Linked DNA regions of Homo sapiens. The protein of the gene in region 2 interacts with the protein of the main gene of each other region in a biochemical or structural test. Each region holds a gene or a part of one and is shown on either strand. Other genes may lie near its edges. The genes, in order: TOP2A, PIAS4 and RBBP8.

What was found.
Region 1: of the proteins of PIAS4 (region 2) and TOP2A, one has a biochemical effect on the other in vitro, tested with the Homo sapiens proteins (2 studies listed by BioGRID).
Region 3: the proteins of PIAS4 (region 2) and RBBP8 form a complex in vitro, tested with the Homo sapiens proteins (one study listed by BioGRID).

The regions. Positions count from the first base shown.
Region 1 is NC_000017.11:40,411,232-40,414,980, reverse strand, and holds part of TOP2A (DNA topoisomerase 2-alpha), read left to right. Parts: intron 1-1,355; coding exon 1,356-1,501; intron 1,502-1,688; coding exon 1,689-1,786; intron 1,787-2,009; coding exon 2,010-2,222; intron 2,223-3,162; coding exon 3,163-3,336; intron 3,337-3,525; coding exon 3,526-3,627; intron 3,628-3,734; coding exon 3,735-3,749. UniProt on the Homo sapiens protein: Key decatenating enzyme that alters DNA topology by binding to two double-stranded DNA molecules, generating a double-stranded break in one of the strands, passing the intact strand through the broken strand, and religating the broken strand.
Region 2 is NC_000019.10:4,031,691-4,035,439, forward strand, and holds part of PIAS4 (E3 SUMO-protein ligase PIAS4), read left to right. Parts: intron 1-1,409; coding exon 1,410-1,483; intron 1,484-1,729; coding exon 1,730-1,890; intron 1,891-3,749.
Region 3 is NC_000018.10:22,936,229-22,939,977, forward strand, and holds part of RBBP8 (DNA endonuclease RBBP8), read left to right. Parts: intron 1-525; 5' UTR 526-623; coding exon 624-732; intron 733-3,749. UniProt on the Homo sapiens protein: Endonuclease that cooperates with the MRE11-RAD50-NBN (MRN) complex in DNA-end resection, the first step of double-strand break (DSB) repair through the homologous recombination (HR) pathway.

The DNA.
Region 1 (3,749 bases), on a different chromosome or scaffold from region 2:
ATTAACTAAAATATAGTACCATCCAAGAATTAACTTAAAATAACTGAAATAAGTTTTCAGCATTTTATTTGAGAGCAAGGCAGTTTATGATTGATATTGGTTTTCCTTTTTTTTTTTTTTTTTTTTGATGGAGTTTTGCTCTTATTGCCCAGTCTGGAGTGCAGTGGCATGATCTCGGCTCACCGCAACATCCACCTCCTGGGTTCAAGCAATTCTCCTGCCTCAGCCTCCAGAGTAGCTGGGATTACAGGCGCACACCACCACACCTGGCTAATTTTGTATTTTTTTTAGTAGAGATGGGGTTTCTGCATGTTGGTCAGGCTGGTCTCGAACTCCTGACCTCAAGTGATCTGCCTGCCTTAGCCTCCCAAAGTGCTGGGATTGCTGGGATTACAGGCGTGAGCCACTGCGCCCAGCCTGTTTTTATGTACTTTGTTGAGTGGGAACGAGATGTATAGATGATCCTCTTGAAAGGGGTATAATAGGCATGATGACTCACTCCTGTAATCCCAGCACTTTGGGAGGCCAAGGTGGGAGGATCAGTTGAGCCCAGGAGTAGTTTGAGACCAGCCTGGGCCATATAGTGAGACCCTCATCTCTACAAAAAATTTAAAAATTAGCCAGGTGTGGTGATGGACACCTGTAGTCCCAGCTATTCAGGAGGCTGAAGTGGGAGGATTGCTTGAGCCCAGGAGGTCAAGACTGCAGTAAGCTGTGATCCTGCCATTACACTGCAGCCTGGGTGACAGAGCGAGATGCTGTCTCAAAAAAGGAGTGGGAGTGGTGTATAATAATGTTTCCAGATTGTCCTTTTCTTTCCATTGGGCATAAATCATTTCCCTCTGTTTATCCTAACATTTTAAAATTTTGTATTTTTTCAACATTATCAGTGTCTATTCAGGTGTTGGAAAAGGTTTTTTTTTCCTCTTGACTCCTATTTCAGGAATGTCAGGAACTAAGCATGGTGGGAAATGTTCCTGCTGAATTTCAGAAGGTATATATGAAAAGTGCCAAAAAAATTGAGGGCTGGGTATGGTGGCTCACATCTATAACCCCAACACTTTGAGCAGTTCTCCTGCTTCAGCCTCCCAAGTAGCTGGAATCACAGGCATGCGCTACCATGCCTGGCTAATTTTTTTTATTTTTAGTAGAGACGGTTTCAACATGTTGGCCAGAACTCCTGGCCTCAAGTGATCTGCCCTCCTCAGCCTCCCAAAGTGCTGGGATTACAGGCACAGGCCACCGCGCCCAGCCTGAATATACATATTTTAGAAATAATAGTATTTAAATATTTTTAAATGTTAAGCATTCGTTTAATGTGTTGTAAAATACAATTTTCAATCTTTTTTTCTTAGGGAAAACAATTTAATTAGTATATGGAATAATGGAAAAGGTATTCCTGTTGTTGAACACAAAGTTGAAAAGATGTATGTCCCAGCTCTCATATTTGGACAGCTCCTAACTTCTAGTAACTATGATGATGATGAAAAGAAAGTGACAGGTAGAGTATTGAGGGGAAATAACATATTTGTTGCTAAAAATATATATATTTAAATGACTGTCTGTGGCATGAGGGTTAAAGATATGGAAATAAATCTCTATAATTGAATAGCTCTGCCAGTGATTAAGAAATAAAGCTGTCAATGAGATAGTAACAATAAAATAGTGTTTCATATTTATTTGCCCAGGTGGTCGAAATGGCTATGGAGCCAAATTGTGTAACATATTCAGTACCAAATTTACTGTGGAAACAGCCAGTAGAGAATACAAGAAAATGTTCAAACAGGCAAGTAAATAAGTGTCTTGTACCTTAATGATAAATGGTAGTAGTATAGCCATTTATAATGGCATTAATGATTGGTTTAATTTAACATAATTTATAAGCTATTGAAGTATGGAAAATTATAAGCATATATATTAGGTTATTAGGACTCATAAATTTATGTTATTTACTTCCAGTTTGTGAGATGACTTGAATTTTTCATGTTTCCTATTCTTTACTTCCATAGACATGGATGGATAATATGGGAAGAGCTGGTGAGATGGAACTCAAGCCCTTCAATGGAGAAGATTATACATGTATCACCTTTCAGCCTGATTTGTCTAAGTTTAAAATGCAAAGCCTGGACAAAGATATTGTTGCACTAATGGTCAGAAGAGCATATGATATTGCTGGATCCACCAAAGATGTCAAAGTCTTTCTTAATGGAAATAAACTGCCAGTGAGTATTTTCCTGGATGTTAAGGATAATAAGGGATTTTGTAATCATTGTCAAGTGCAAAATTGAATTTTTTCCCCTCCCATATGTTTTTGTTTGTTTGTTTGTTTGTTTGTTTGAGACAGAGTCTCACACTGTTGCCCGGGCTGGAGTGCAGTGGCACGATCTCGGCTCACCGCAACCTCCACCTCCCAGGTTCACGCAATTCTCCTGCCTCAGCCTCCCAAGTAGCTGGGATTACAGGTGCCTGCCACCACACCTGGCTAATTTTTTGTATTTTTAGTAGAGACAGGTTTCACTATGTTGGCCAGGCTGGTCTCGAACACCAGACCTCATGATCCACCCGTCTTGGCCTCCCAAAGTGCTGGGATTACAGGCATGAGCCACTGCACCTGGCCCAACCATATGTATTTTCTTACCACTTCTCACATATGTTCTTGAAAAGAGAATGGTATGCCACATTTTTTAATCAGCTCATTTTAAACTTACCGAAGGAATTTCTTTCTCAAAGAAACACCTAAAATAAATATTTCATGTCCTTTTTTTATTTTCCTTTTTCTTTCTTTTCTTGATAACCTCGCTGTGTCACCCAGGCTGGAGTACAGTGATGCAATCACGGCTCACTACAGCCTGGACCTCCCAGGCTCAAGCGATCATCCCACCTCAGCTTCTGGAGTAGCTGGAAATGCAGGCAGCACCACCATGCCCAGCTAATTTTTTTTTTTCTTTTTAATAGAGGTGGGGATCTCACTATGTTGCCCAGGGTGGTCTTGAACTCCTGGGCTCAAGTGATCCACCCACCTCGGCCTGTGTCCTTTAATGACCATTCCCTTATGCCTATCAGTGAACATCATTGCATTGGTTTTGGAAAGTCCTCATAGTCTATCATTGAACCTATTTTTTAATAACTTTCTTAATACTGTTACCTTTAATTCCTGTACAGGTAAAAGGATTTCGTAGTTATGTGGACATGTATTTGAAGGACAAGTTGGATGAAACTGGTAACTCCTTGAAAGTAATACATGAACAAGTAAACCACAGGTGGGAAGTGTGTTTAACTATGAGTGAAAAAGGCTTTCAGCAAATTAGCTTTGTCAACAGCATTGCTACATCCAAGGTAATTTTATTCTTAAATTATTAATCATGATTTATCTTTACATATATGTGTTCTTATTGTTTTTAATATATAAAGTGGACTTGAATATTGGGCTAGCTTAGTATAAAGGAGGTTAAATTAGTTTTTAATGTTTGATTATTATAATTTTGAGGATACTGAGTTTTACAGTTTGGTATTTTTCCTTATTAGGGTGGCAGACATGTTGATTATGTAGCTGATCAGATTGTGACTAAACTTGTTGATGTTGTGAAGAAGAAGAACAAGGGTGGTGTTGCAGTAAAAGCACATCAGGTATGTGCTTTTGGCAGTTTTCTTTTTCTAAAGTCAAGGAAGAAGAGAAAGGCTATAAATAAAGCATGAGTACATTTTTAGTGGCTTAATATCAACTTCTATTGCAGGTGAAAAATCACATG
Region 2 (3,749 bases):
TCTCCGAAGGGGTCTCCTGCTGCTTCCCACAGCCGGCCCCAGGCTCAGCCTCTCTGTCACTGGATTTCTTTCTTGCTGCACCTAGGAAGTCCTCACCTTTGCCTCACTTGAACCCTTCCTGCTGCGCACGTCTCTCCATACACAAAGGAGGGAGAGTTTGCTTTAAAATCAGATGGGCACCTGCATCCCCTCCTAGCTGCCCCTTTGCCAGGCTTGAGGGTCCACCCGGGCACCGGGTAGCCAGAGCTGGGATCCAAGGATGGAAACTCAGCTGAGGAGTGAGCGGCTGGGGCAGCCTTGGCTCAAGCAGGGGAGCTGCTGGGAGCCAGCACGTGGCTGCCACCACGTCCCCACGGGAGAAGGAAGAGCCCACTGCTCCACACCCCGGCTGGGGGTCTGGGTGGGGGTCAGGAAGGAGGAAGTGGCTCCCAAGCGGGCAGAGATAAGTGGTGTTTCAGGCCAATAAGGGGTGGTAGGGGCATTTCCAGGCGGAGGAACGTCAGGACAGCTGGGGGGAGTGGGGGGGCAGGCTGGCACCATCACTCTGGACCCCAAGTCACTTGGGCAGGTGGCTTCCTGGAGGAAGCAACACTGGTCCACCAGGCAGCTGAGGGCCAGGTGGTGGATGGAGAGGCCCTGTGGGTTGTGGGCCAGGGTGGCCTGCCCCCCATGGCCCAGGGCTGGGGTCTCTCCTGAGCTACCCATGGATGGAGTTTACCCTGGGATGGAGCCACATCCCAGAAGCCTCAGGAGGGCAGCCAGGGTCCCTGCGTGAGTTTCCTTCTGGCTGTGGGCCTGCTGCCCGTCGAGGGGAGGGCGGCGCCTGCCTCCAAGACTTCATGTTTCACATATGTTTCCCCATGTTCCGTGCAGCTTGCTGGCGGGCACCGTCTTTTCCTTTAAAGAAGCAGCTACACTCCTGTCTGCAGGCTGCCTTGGGGCGGTGCTGGGGCTGGGCGGCAGCCGCTTGCTGGCTCACAGCCAGGAAGCCCCAGGATCCGTCTCCCAAAGAGTCCCTGCCTCATTCCCCGCTGTGGCCTTGGGGATGGTGCTTCGGTGACAGAATGAAGTCACAGCAATGACTCTTTCGGTGGCTGTGTTGCATGAAACTTGCCAGAAAAGTCCCATGGGTCATAGTCCACGCAGGGTGGGGGAGGCCACATAGGCCACCTCCGTGTGGGGGCTTCGGCTGGGTCTGTGCTGTGCCCAGGTTGTGGTCAAATCTAATGGTGGTTGCCACCCGGCTTTCTCCAATCCCTCACGGCCCCGAGCCACACAGCGAAGCTTGGGACTCATCGTCAGGGGCCTGTTCTGGGAGGTGGACGTCAGTGCCGGAGAGAACTCGAATCACAGCCCCGCGCCCTGCTGTTCCCACCCTCCTGACGGTGTCTTCCGTTCCCTCCCCACAGTCAAGGAGAAGCTGCGCCTTGATCCTGACAGCGAGATCGCCACCACCGGTGTGCGGGTGTCCCTCATCTGTCCGGTGAGTCGGGGCGCGGTCCCCTCCTCGAGGCCTCTCCTGCGGCCGGCCTTCCCCCCTGGCGGCCCTGGGCCCGGGGCGGCTTGGCTGGGCCGTGAGCCTGCGGGGGCGAGGCTGGTCTTCGTCCCCTCCGTGTTCCTGAGGCATGAGTGATTGGAGCGAGCCACAGGATGGAGCTGGGGGTGAGGGGCACCGGGCAGGCGGGCACAACAGGAGGGGTGCCCTGCTCACGCAGCCCCTCCCCCACAGCTGGTGAAGATGCGGCTCTCCGTGCCCTGCCGGGCAGAGACCTGTGCCCACCTGCAGTGCTTCGACGCCGTCTTCTACCTGCAGATGAACGAGAAGAAGCCCACCTGGATGTGCCCCGTGTGCGACAAGCCAGCCCCCTACGACCAGCTCATCATCGACGGGTGAGCCCGGGGCCCCGGGGAGGGCGGCCGGAGCCGGACATCCGTGGAGGTCTCGGTGGCACCCCGCTTCCTGCAGACCACATGGTGCCCCAGCAAGACACAGCAGTGGGGGCACATGGTCCTGGAGCTTTGGAAACCCCGGGCTGCGAAAAGAGCCGGTTTCTTTCTCGCGGAACTTCTCAGAGCCTTTGCTATGCAGGTGACAGCCACGTAGCTTAGGTTGCAGAAGGTGGGCTCCGGTCCACCCCGCTCCCACGTGACCTCAGGCAAGTGTGACCCTGAGCTCCAGGAGTGTGGTTTGTGCCACAAAAAACTGAGCCAGGTCGTGCTTTCACACGGCGTTCACCCCAGGACGCGCAGCCTTGGGGGTGACCTCCTCACAGAAAGGCAAAGGAGGTGGCGCCTCCTGGAGCACTCTGGCTACGCCATGCCCTTCCCTTCCTAGGTGGCACAGCTGTGGCCAGGCATTCCCCAGGCCACAGGGGACAGGAGGACAAGACCTTTCTCCCTGGTGGAAGGCTCTGCCCAGGGCTTAAGTTTCCAGAAACTGAGCCCCGTTGTCTGTGGTGCCTGATGCGGCTCCTGCCCGGCGCCGACCGCGCCCACCTCGTCCCCAGAGCCGCCGGCAGGGCGCGAGGCCACAGCGGCACAAGCTGGCGCCCTCACAGGCGGGAGCAGGCCCTGCCTGTGGGGGTGGGCCGGGTCCCCAGCCCTCAGGCATGGCCTCAGCGGACTGTGCAGGTGAAGGCAGGGCTGGCCTGCCTCTGGGGTTGTAGATTTCATCCCCAGGTGGACCTCCGGTTCATGCACTTGTCCCCATCCCAGGAGACAGACCTGTGAGCGTCCTCAGTTTACAGACGAGGAAACAGGCTCAGAGGAGGCAACCAGCAGCTGGAGCTACCCCGGCTCACGGGGCCAGGCTGAGACTTGAACCCAGCCTGAGTCTGGGTCCCCTCTGTGGAGGGCTGGGTGGCCACCCCCTTGCATCCCAGCTTCGGGTAGAGAGAGGAGTCCTTTGGGCCGGGCACGTGGGCTGCCTGAATGGCTGCTCTGTTCCCAGCCTGACAGCTGTGCAGCCGGGTGCCCGCCTTCCCCCACAGGCCCGGAGTGGGGCTTGGGCTTGGGGTGGCGGCAGCTCTCACAGCTCCAGGGCCACCAGGGCTGGGGCAGGCAGCTGTGTCCCATGCAGGCCTTGGCCTCAGCAGCCCATGGGACTCGGTGTAGCCAGGGAGGCTTCCTGGAGGAGGGGTCCTTGGTTCATACTTTGTTCCATGAGCCCTATCACCTCTCTGTCCCTGGCTCTGAGCTGGGTGACCCCAGGGTCCCCAAAAGAGCCCCGTCCCAGACCCTGCCTTCAGAGTCTTGTTCTTGGCCAGGGGAGCGGATAGAGGAGCAGAGCCAGACATAAACGTTCCCGTTGCTGTGTGTGTCTTGGGGAGGAGGAAGAGAAGCTGTGGGGTGGGGCTTTGGAGGGTGAAAAGCAGTTTTGCAAGCAGGGAAGTGGGCAGGCAGGGCTGTGCTACGCCTGGGGCGGCCCTGGCACGGTGGGCTCCGAGCATCGCCTCAGAGAGAGCTCGGCGGGGCGGAGGGGCTGGCCTGGGTGAGAGCCTCAGAAAGGGTGGCCCAGAGTGGGACGAGGGCTCTCCTGTGTGATGAGAACGATGCCACTGCGGGTGCCTGGGAGCAGCTGTAGCCTTGACAGTAACAGGCCAGCCTGGGCCCTGCATGGACCCGTGGGGCAGGGGGCCTCTCCTCAGACGCCCCCCAGCCACTGCACCTTTCCCTTCCTGCGGGTGGGGAGACTGAGGCCCTTTGGCTAAGACGGGTTGGGGAGCAGAACCAGGGCCTGCCTCCAGTTG
Region 3 (3,749 bases), on a different chromosome or scaffold from region 2:
GTAGCTGGGGCCACAGGCACGCACTACCACACCTGGCAAATTTTTGTATTTTTAGTAAAGATGGGGTTTCACCATGGTGGCCAGGCTGATCTCAAACTCCTGGCCTCAAGTGATCTGCCCACCTCAGCCTCCCAAAGAGCTAGGATTACAGGCAAGAGCCATCTCCCCCAGCCAAAACAATACATTAGTCTATAGTGGTAAATTAATACTGACCATGAATGATAAAAACCCCTCAATATCTGAATCCTTTCTGTTTAATATAATTGAGATAATTTCTTCCTCTAAGAGAAATAAGAAAATTTGCCTGAAAATTTACCTCATATAGCCAAATAACTGAAATCAGAACTTTTCTCACCATTATCATCTTTCCTTATTCTTTCCTTCCCCTCCCAAATTCTAAAAATGATTGATTATAGGTAAATAAGGAAATGGTAAATGAGGATATCTGGGCTTGTGTTTCATCCTGATTTCAAAGTACATAAAGATAAATGCAAAGTTCATTTATGTTGCAATCTGTCATTTCAGGTATTTGACCTGTCCAAAGACGACTTGATACCTCTATAATGTAACAGAAAAGGTCAGAAAATATTAAGCAAGTAGAAGTGTGGAGCATATTAAGCAAGATGAACATCTCGGGAAGCAGCTGTGGAAGCCCTAACTCTGCAGATACATCTAGTGACTTTAAGGACCTTTGGACAAAACTAAAAGAATGTCATGATAGAGAAGTACAAGGTAAAATCTTTTCTTAAATACTTACAGCAGTATTTTGTTGAGACTGTAGTGGCTTTGTATACCTTTGTATGACAGTCCTGTTTATTATTTCTATTTCAGCTTTTAGGTTCCGGGGGTACATGTGCAGATTTGGTACATGGATAGATTGCATGTTGCTGGGGTTTGGTGTGCAAATGATTTCATCACCCAGGTAGTGAGCATGGTACCCCATAGGTAGTTTTTCAATCCCCACCCTCTTCCCACCCCCCTGACCCTCCACCCTCATGTAGGTCCCAGTACCTGTTGTTCCCCTCTTTGTGTCCATGTGTACTAAATGTGTAGCTCCCACTTATAAATGAGAACATGCAGTATTTCTGTTGTCTGCTCAGGGTAATGGCTTCATCTGCATCCATGTTGCTGCAAAGAAAATAATTTTGTTCTTTTTTATGGCTTCATTGTATTCCATGATGTATATATACTTTTTTTTAATTCAGTCCACTGTTGAATTTTGTACATTTAATGGCCATCTTTAAATTCAAAGATATCTTTTTTTTTTTTTTATTTTTTTTGAGACAGGGTCTCACTGTGTCACCAGGCTGGGGTGTAGTGGTGTGATCACAGCTCACTGCAGCTTCAACCTCCCATTCTCAAGTGAGCCTCCCTCCTGTAGTTGGGACCATAGGCACACGCTGCCATGCCTGGCTAATTTTTTATTTTTTGTAGAGTCAGGGTCTCACTATGTTGCCCAGGCTGGTCTTGAACTCCTGGCCTCAAGTGATCCTTCTGTCTCTGCCTCCCAAAGTGGTGGGATTACAGACGTGAGCCACTGCGCCTGGCCCAAAGATCTCATTATTTATTTATTTATTTATATATTCATGTATTTATTTATTTACTAATTAATTTTCAGAGAGGTTCTCACTCCGTTGCCCAGGCTGGAGTGCAGTGGTATGGTCACAGCTCACTGCAGCTTTAACCTCCCAGGCTCAGGTGTTCCTCCCACCTTAGCCTCCTGGGTACCTGGGACTACAGGTGTGCACCACCACGCCCAGCTAATTTTATGTATTTTTTGTAGAGACAGAGTTTTGCCTTTTTGCCCAGGCTGGTCTTGAACTTCTGGGCTCAAGCAGTCCACTGGCCTCAGCCTCCCAAAGTGCTAGGATTACAGGTGTCCGCTGCTGTGCCCAGCTGATCTTTTTTTCTTTTTCTTTTTGAGACAGGGTCTTGCTTTGTCACCCATGCTGGAGTGCAGTGGTGCAAACATGGCTCACTATAGTGTCAAACTCTCGGGCCCAAGTGATTGTCCCACCTCATCCTCCCAAGTAGTTGGGACTACAGGCGCACGCACCATGCCCAGCTAGTTTGTTTTTGTTTTTGTTTTTTTTAAACTTATCCTTCACCTTAGAACACCTAGCTAGTTTTTGTATTTTTTGTGGAGTCAGGGTTTCGCTATGTTGCCCAGGCTGGTCTCAAACTCCTGAGTTCAGGTGATCTCCCGCCTTGGCCTCCCAAACAGCTAGGATTACAGGCGTGAGCTGCGCCCAGCCAGATCTCATTTTTAGAGGACATTTACAATTGTAGTTTTTGTGATTCATTTTTATGGTCAAATTGGTGCTTTTTAACCACAGAACATAGTTTGTATACAACTTGCTGTTATTTACTTGTGGTAATATGTATGAGATAGTGGAAAACGTATACAATTTGTTGACTGAAGACCTGCATTTGAATTCTGATTTCATTTACCCACTTGCTCTGTGATCTTAGCCTAATTACCTAACCTCTAAATTTAATTTTCTTCTATAAAATTCTTTGCAGGATATAGACATAAAAATACTACATAAAGTCATTTGACAAACCCGTAGCACTGAAATACAAAAGTGAATGGCCACTTACCTTCAGACAGCCTGCAGTCTTAGTAGAGTCGTGTAAACAGATAATTACAGTACAGTGAAATAACAGTTAAAAGGTTTTTATGACGTGCAAGGAGTTTTAGAGGATTAAGCAATTGTGGTTGAGATGAGTAAATATTATTTGTGTTAAAAGATACACCATATGAAGCTAAGCTCAAGGTTTTAATATTAAATTTTAATATACTTTAATTCTGTAACTTTCCCTATGTCCCTATGTATGAGAAATGCTTCATATTACATTTGTTTCTTGATTACCTATTATAAGTTTAATATTGCAGTGCTTTATAGCTGTATCATTACACTGGAGTACTATTAAAACATAATCAACCTGAATCTAAAGTGTAGTATGTGAGTCTGTATTAGAACTTTCTTATGGTAGGCTGGGCACGGTGGCTCACGCCTGTAATCCCAGTGCTTTGGGAGGCCAAGGTGGGCGGATCACCTGAGGTCAGGAGTTCGAGACCAGCCTGACCAACATAGAGAAACCCTGTCTCTACTAAAAATACAAAATTAGCCGGGTGTGGTGGTGCGCACCTGTAATCCCCGCTACTCAGGAAGGCTGAGGCAGGAGAATCGCTTGAACCCAGGAGAATCGTTTGAACCCAGGAGGCGGAGGTTGCAGTGAGCTGAGATCACGCTATTGCACTCCACCCTGGGCAACAAGAGCGAAACTCCGTCTCAAAAAAAAAAAGAACTTTCCCATGGTAAGTTTAGTTTCTTGCAAAACTTCTGGTGACACCCTTATTAATTAATGAGTTTTGAAATATGAACAACCCCAAAAGTATTCTTTCAAGCCCCAGTGTTCATGGAGACACAAAGAAATGTTCAAGAAATGTTTTTTGGGCACTTACTATGTGCCAGACCTTGTGAATAAGAATAAATCCTATATAGTGCTAGCTTTAAGGGAATTTCTAGTCTAGAATTTTAATGCAGTATACTATGTTATTATCTGAAAACATGAAGGAAGAACTGAGGGTGTGTGTGGTTGCATGGGGAAGTGGGTTTGTGCATGGTTTATGTCAGACCAGGCTTGATAATTAAGTCTAATTAGCCAGGCAAGGAAGATGGTGGAAGGGGAGGGAATTTTCTGAGTAGAGAGAATAGCACATGCAAAAGTTTGCAGATAAGAGC